Homo sapiens: one gene and its partner. The protein of the gene in region 1 purifies or fractionates together with the protein of each later gene. This does not show direct contact. Each region holds a gene or a part of one and is shown in the gene's direction. Other genes may lie near its edges. The genes, in order: RREB1 and ARL6.

Region 1 (3,823 bases):
AAAAGGAGAGAAGAACTCTTTGATTTAGTTATTTGCTTAGCTTGTGCTCCATTTTAGGTTAATGAACTTGCATTGTCTTTGTCTTAAAAATACTGCTAAACTGGTTGCATTTTAGAATGTCTTGTTTTTAAAGAGGATTTGCTGGATGTGTAATACTCTTAAGAAATGCTGCCGATGCTTACCGTTTTGTGGAATATCATTCTCTGGGTTTTTCTAGATACTGCTTTATTTCTCATCAGAAAATCAGACTCTAAGCCCTTATGGCAGACAAGTATTTGTTATGTGATGGGGAACATGCGTCTTATTGAGCTGGTACAGGTAGTGCATCCATTCCTAACTAGTTACATCATCCAACAAGCGACCTTTTGATTGAAGGGTCTTTTAAATTTCTTCGGGCAGACTCCCAAGGCCTTATTTGTATCCAACACAGGTACAGCGTGTTGAAGGAAGAAAATAAACCTACACGTATTAGTCCAGCATCTGATCAACAGCAGTTTATTGGTTACCTGCTGTGTGCCAGGCACTGTACAGTGTAGCTGCCTTAGGTCGTTTTTGCTCTTCAATTTTGAACTGTTGCGTTATTCCACTTCTGAGGTCAGTTAGGAAGTCTTTGCTTGCTATCTTATGCTTGCTTGCTAACATCATTTATCACCTTCAGCTAAGGAAATGTCCTAGTTAATGAAGTTTTAAAATGCTACCCTTTTAGGATTTTGCTCAGCATAATTAATATAAATTTAACTCCTATAAGAATTGGTTAAATATATTCTTTGGAAACAGAAGTGAATTCTTTTGATGTTTCTGTTCATTATCCTTCTGAAAAGTAGGTGGTGCTTAGAAGGTCATAGGATAAGGGTTGCTAAGCAGCTAAACAGAAGGATGCTAAAATTAACCAAAGCATTTTTGAAAGGGAGTCATTCCCTGTTTTACATTATTTACTAGGTTTAGTTAATTTCTGAATCTTCTATGTCCTTTGACCTGGGAAGGTAGGATGTTAAAGTTTGTTTTGGTTTTGTTATTATATTTAAATAATCTCTTTCTTTTGTAAGTGTCTTTAATTGAAGTTCAGTACTCTATGACCAGCCTTGTGGTGTCAGATGGCAGCTTGTCTGGTGGACTTCTTGACTATTACCAGTGTGTTCAGGTTGAACCTTCCTGAGGATTTGTGTGTATAGTACCCTCTTATTTCTAGTATTAATAACTGATTCCATGGTTTGTTTTGGAAATTCTGCATAATCCATAAAGTTATGTCTTTTATTCCGCATGAAACAGATTTGTATTCAAAGATAGAAATGCAATTTAGTATCAGTAGAAAGTATGCAATGTAGTCTGTCCTGATAAGGGGACAATAGCTTTCTTTCCCCCTTTACTGAGATTACCATTCCCTTAGATTAGGTTTTGATAGGGCTTCTCCTCCATTTCATTCCACCTCCCTAGTGCAGTTTATTCCGCCCAGTTCATAGCTATCTTTTTAAAAATAATTATATTAGGTTCAGAGTATCTTTGGAAGGACTGGCCAAATGTCAGAAAACAAAAATAGGTGTGATGTACATTACATTTCTGCCAAAAGTATGTTCAAGTATCTTGAAGTTTTTCATTGAGATAAAATGGTTGAAATCTAATTGAAGCCATGATGAGTAACTATCATCTCTTGGTTGAATGGTAAGCCTGTTGTAAGCCAAAAGTTTCCCTGCTTCAAGGTTAATTTCTGTACATCTGACCTATTGAACAGGCAGTGTTGAGTCATATTTTTTATGTCCAAATATAATTAAGAAATTGATAAATGTATTTTCTTTCTGTTTCTTTTCTCTCTTTCTTTCCTGATTTAGACAGTGATTTTTGAGTAGAAGTAGCCATGGCAGTTTTCAAAGAGCAAGGGTCAGACAGTGATTTCCACAGGGGGGTGAGGGTTGCAGGGTTGCAGGTACCTTATATCAAAGGTAAAAGGTACACCGTATGAAACCCAGAGGGAGGCATACGGTGTGCTCTCTGAAATGCATCACTTATTTTTCATTTCCCCCACTCCCATAGAAGGCAGAATACAGAAAAGAAAACTACTGTTGTTTTCATTACTACGGAGGTAAAAGAATGAGGAAGGTGGAGAGGGGTTTTTCCTTTTTTGTTAGCAGTCCTGTCGGCAATGTCATCGACTGTGCTCCGCCCAATTTCTCTTGTCACGTTCTCTGGTGTTCAGCGTGGTCTGAACTGCAGCCGAGTGTAGCTGGGGATTGCACTCTGCCGTTGGCAGTGGCGGGTTGGGGTGAAGCGGATGGGGAGGAGGAGACTGGGAGCGATCGGTGCATCTTATTTCTGGTGGGACTTCAAGGGTACTGAAGTTAGCCAGTCTGCCCATCAGTAGAGGTGGCTGACTGTGAGTAGGTGCTTCAGACGAAAGCATGGGAGAGGGTGGAGATTGTTTGTTCAGTGTGATTCAAGCCAGTAAAGCTAAGAGAATTCGAAAACCTCTGTGAAGTCCGGGGACTGGGGACTGGGTCCTGACTGCTCCTGCAGGGATTCACCTGAGGGCTTGCAGACATCATGAGGGTGGGTGGAGAAAGAGAATGAAAACCCCCACAGGCATTGTCAGACAGCCAGAGTGAAGAGAAAACGTCTCAGTGGGGGTAATTAGATAAAGCTTTTAAATGCTCTATTTGTTTTTCTCTAGTTTGCTTGGTATTTCATCTCTTTCCCCCTTTTCAGAGACTATGGGATAGAATTGTTATGAAAGTGTCTGATACTTCTGGTGGTTTAATCACTTTAAAATTTTTCTTTTTCATTCAGATATACCTTCTAGGACTTAGTTAATTTCACCCTGCTTTTGTGGAGGCCTTTAGCAAAGATTCCACGTTCATGCTGAGAGGAACACTGTGGGAGTTGGGTGGGTATGTTGACCCATTTTACAGCTGCGCGGTGGTCCACCCGGGGGCTGTTAATGAATCAAACTTGGAACCCAGAACTCCTAACTCCAGCCTAGCCCTGTAGAACAGCTGCTTTTTAGAGTCAGTTTGACCTCAGGAGGACTTAGCAGCATTAAATATATACTGCCTATTTATCTCCATGTGTATGGTGTGTGGTTTTTAAATAAGACCAGATCCTTTTCAAAATAAACCTAATTGAGTTTGAAGGTATAAGGAAATTTTAAAAAGCACTTCTGCTCTTGGTAGCATTTCTGTTGATGAACTGTGATGACATGTATCTTTTTAGTAGCCTTTCTACCTCATGAGATTGTTGTAAGGATAAAGTAGATGTTCCAGAAAGTCAAAATCTATAAACGGAAGAAAGTGGTATATTTTGAGCTCAGGAAGCTTTGTGGGTATCCATTCTGGATTTCCTTTCCAGAATTTTGCACACCTCCATTACCTTAGTCAAATTTTGCCTAGGAGTTTATGTTCAGATTGGGGAAATGCAGCACTTTGTTTTTGTTTTTAGTGCTGGGAGACTAACAGGACTAGCAAATTCTTCTTAATGTGGTTCACTTAGGTGAGGCAGAGTCTTGCTGTCGCCCAGGATGGAGTGCAGTGGCACAATCTTGCCTGTCTGCAACCTCCACCTCCAGGGTTCAAGCGATTCTCCTGCCTCAGTCTCCTGAGCAGGTGGGACTACAGGCACACACCACCACGCCCAGCTAATTTTTGTATTTTTAGTAGTAACAGGGTTTCACCATGTTGATCAGGGTGAGGGATGAGTTTTAAGGAAAAAGCTGATGACAAGCTTGGGGCTTACTCTTTGAAGAAGTGGTTCTCAACCTGGTGGGTTTGCCCCCAGGGGACTTTTGGCACTGTCTGGAGACATTTTTAAGTGTTTCTGGTGGGGGGGGGGGCGGCAG
Region 2 (3,823 bases), on another chromosome or scaffold:
TGATTTTTTCACAATGATTGGCACATTTAAAGCCCTTAAAATCAAAATAATGAAGTTGGGGGAACATTAAAACTTAGGAAACTTCTTATTGCAAAGGTTGTTCTGAAATGAAGGAAACCCAAGGTATGAGGCAGGAATCTTAGTGGCAGGAAATGAATTTTGTCTTACATAAACAAAAATATATTTTTGGAAAAATACTAGATCAGATCTTGGAATGGATAGAAGGAAAAGGAAAAAGCTAAGTAAACAAACTTCAGAAAGGCAAAACAAGGGCAGCTCTGGAGGGCCTTTCTACTAGTGCATTACCATGCTATTAAAGTGACCAAGCTCCAGTGAATTTTGAGCTTCTGTCTTTCCTTGAATTTAAATTTCCCAGAAGTAGACTACCAGAGTGAATGTAATAGTGTGAGGCAAAATTTTCCCCTCTAATACTGTTTTTTTATAAAAGCAACAAGATGAACTGAAGGGAGTTTTTTTTAAAGTTATAGTGACAATATGGGAAGAATTGGGGAAGAGACTGAAATCAGTGAGCATGTAATTATAATAATATCAGACATTTGTTGAGCATTTACTGTGTTGAGTATTTTACATCCATTAACTTATTTACTTATCATGATAAGTTTATGAGTAAAGGATAATAATAATATATTTCACATTTGAGAAAACCAGGCTTAGAAAAATTAAGTAACTTGTTCAAGGTAGCAAAGGCAAGTAAGAGCAATTAGGAGGCTGGTACAGTAATTCAAAGCAAGAAATGATAAGGGTCTGAACTAAGTTAGTGAGATAGAACCAAAAAGCTTAGAGAATGATTACATAAAGAATGTAAAAAAAAGGGAGGAGTCAATAATAATTTCTAGGCATCTGGATCAGAAAGTAGATATATTTTTATTCAAACAGAGGAATAGTTTTTCTGATGAAAGTGCTAGGAGGCATTTAACAAGTTAGATTGTTAGTATAATACATTTTAATTGTCAGTGGGATTTGTCAACATGTCTCCTGCTGTACTCTAGCCCCCTTTCAATCTCTTCTCCACGCAGAATTCCCTACCATTGCCTTCAAGCCCTTACCTCAACATATCACTCTTTATCTTACCCGATACACTTGAGACATTTAGGCTTTCTGCATTTCCTCAGTGGCAAGTTCCTTCCTTCCTCAGAATCATTGCACTGACAGATTTCTCTGACTGGACTGTTCTTTGTCAATAACTTGTCATGGTTCTTCCCCTCCTGTCATTCACTCCTGGGTCAGATGGCCCCTACTCAGAGAGACCATTCCTGAGCACTTTTCTTCCATGCCACCTTCCAGCCCCTTTCTGTTGCCTCCCACCCCCAAAACATTTATTTTTGCACTTATCTCTGCTCAAAATTGTGTTCTATTTACATCTTCTAGCTTGTAAACTCCATAAAGGCAGGAACCATCTACACATGAGGGCAGTCTGGAACATATACAAACTCACGTATGTGTTGAAAGATTAGAAAGTATGCCAGGCACGGTGGCTCACTCCTGTAATCCCAGCACTTTGGGAGCCCAGGGCGGGCAGATCACAAGGTTAGGAGATCGAGACCATCCTGGCTAACACGGTGAAACCCTGTCTCCACTAAAAATACAAAAAATTAGCCAGGCGTGGTGGCGGGCGCCTGTAGTCCCAGCTACTCGGGAGGCTGAGGCAGGAGAATGGTGTGAAGCCGGGAGGTGGAGCTTGCAGTGAGCCGAGATTGCGCCACTGCTCTCCAGCCTGGGTGACAGAGTGAGACTCTATCTCAAAAAAAAAAAAAACACTTATTAAACCACTTATAAAACAAACGCTTATGTCCTTGGTAGCATGCCACAAGCCACAAATGTGAATTAATATTATGCAGATTCATAATTAGTAAACCTTAAACTTCTATAAAGAATTCACACAGAGTGATCCTATTGAAAAAATTATATAACTTTGTTAAATCCTATCATCTCCTTAGTGACAGATTTTAGAAACTGAAAATCTGGATACTTTAACTTGAGGAAAACTCATCTCTGGTAATTGTAAATTTCTGAACTTTGTCTTTTCTCTTAAAGGCTCAATCTCAAAATATCCTTCCAACAATAGGATTCAGCATAGAGAAATTCAAATCATCCAGGTAATCCACTTTATCCCTTAACAAAAAAGTTGCTAGTGAAAAATAACAATATTAGGTCTACCTGGTCATTCTTCCTACCCTTAGATAAAGTAATTTGTTGTTTCAGAATCTCATAGGTATTAAAGTGTTTCTAACCACTATGGCTGGTTTATTTTTCAGAATTTAGAGTTTAGACAAACTCTGATAACTTCACTAGCAAAGAAGTTTTTTATGTTATTTATTGCAAAATTGTGTTTATATTAATACATTTATTTCATAGAACTTTTACTTGTAAATTGGCACATGTTGAATATTGCATATGAAGGGTAATTTCTTTGATTGTAAATAATTTAAAATTTTAAGTAAAAGTTATGCTTTAGTTTATAATGTAGTCATGTTTTGCTTCTTTTTGTAGTTTGTCATTTACAGTGTTTGACATGTCAGGTCAAGGAAGATACAGAAATCTCTGGGAACACTATTATAAGTAAGTACATCTGTGAATGTTGCTTAACTAGATGGTTTTTACTAATAATAATGATTAGAAATCCAAAGAATTATATGGCTAGGTTGTTTGGCTTTTTTTTTTCATGTAATTTATGAACATTTCCTATTTTAAAAAATATGTAATGAGACTCAACATTGTTTGTCAAATGTTTCAGGTCCTTCATGACTTCGGGCCTTTGCATGTACTATTCTCTCTGTTTTTAATGCCCCATTCTATCCTACTTCACTTCAGTTTAAGGTTAACATATTCCTGCTTTAAAACTCAGCTAAAAGTCCTTTCCTCTGAAGTTTCACTGTTCTGCCCAGTTATTTTGTCCTTATTGTTCACCTGGCACTTTGTCCATTTCTATCTCTCTAATCATACTTACCATGTCTTGAAGTTATGCACCATAGCCGCCTCCCTAGTGGAAGTGTGAACTCCTCAAGGGAAGGGATTATTTATTATTCATATTATTTTTTCAAGACCTAGTATGATGCTCAGCATATAGGCCAGTAAATATTATTGACTAAATTTAGTTAAAAATAACAGTGTTGCCTAACAGTTGATCCATTGTTCTATGAATAATTTGAAACAAGCCATTTTTCAGCATATGCAAGTCAAGTGCTCACTAATTTACACTTGGTCCTTCATGTCCTTGGGTTCTGCATTCCTGGATTAAACCAATTGTAGATCAAAAATATTTGGGGAGAAAAATGCCATAAAGTTCCAAAAAGCAAAACTTAAATTGCCGTGCACAAACTACTGTATTGAAAGCATATAAATGAGGTCATATGTAGGCATTGTATTACGTATTATAAGTAATCTAGGGTGATTTAAAGAATATGGAAGAATTTGCATATGTTATAAGCAAATACTAAGCCATTTTATATAAGAGACTTGAGCATCTGCAGATTTTGGTATTTGAAGGGGATCCTGGAACCAATCCCTCGCCAATTCGGAGGGATGACTATACTTCAGACTAATAGCTGTCAAGTTACTAGGACCCAAATGTGTTATACCTTCTGGAGATTTGCATATGGTAATAAAATAAATTCATTAGCTTCTAATATTGTTAGGACTTCATTTAAGAGCAATGTATTTCACTTTTAGAGTCTGAAACTTAAAAACACTATCTCTTAACTAAACTCTCTTTTGTCATTATGAACTGCTGCCTTGAAATGGTATGTGATATTTACCAGATAAGATTTAGATTTAGATTAACTCTTTCCTAATAATGTGAGAC

What was found.
Region 2: the proteins of RREB1 (region 1) and ARL6 purify together in Homo sapiens (affinity purification with mass spectrometry; one large-scale study listed by BioGRID and IntAct). This does not show direct contact.

The regions. Positions count from the first base shown.
Region 1 is NC_000006.12:7,110,663-7,114,485, forward strand, and holds part of RREB1 (ras-responsive element-binding protein 1), read left to right. Parts: intron 1-3,823.
Region 2 is NC_000003.12:97,778,104-97,781,926, forward strand, and holds part of ARL6 (ADP-ribosylation factor-like protein 6), read left to right. Parts: intron 1-2,055; coding exon 2,056-2,117; intron 2,118-2,511; coding exon 2,512-2,580; exon of another isoform or gene 2,581-2,584; intron 2,585-3,823. UniProt on the Homo sapiens protein: Involved in membrane protein trafficking at the base of the ciliary organelle. Mediates recruitment onto plasma membrane of the BBSome complex which would constitute a coat complex required for sorting of specific membrane proteins to the primary cilia.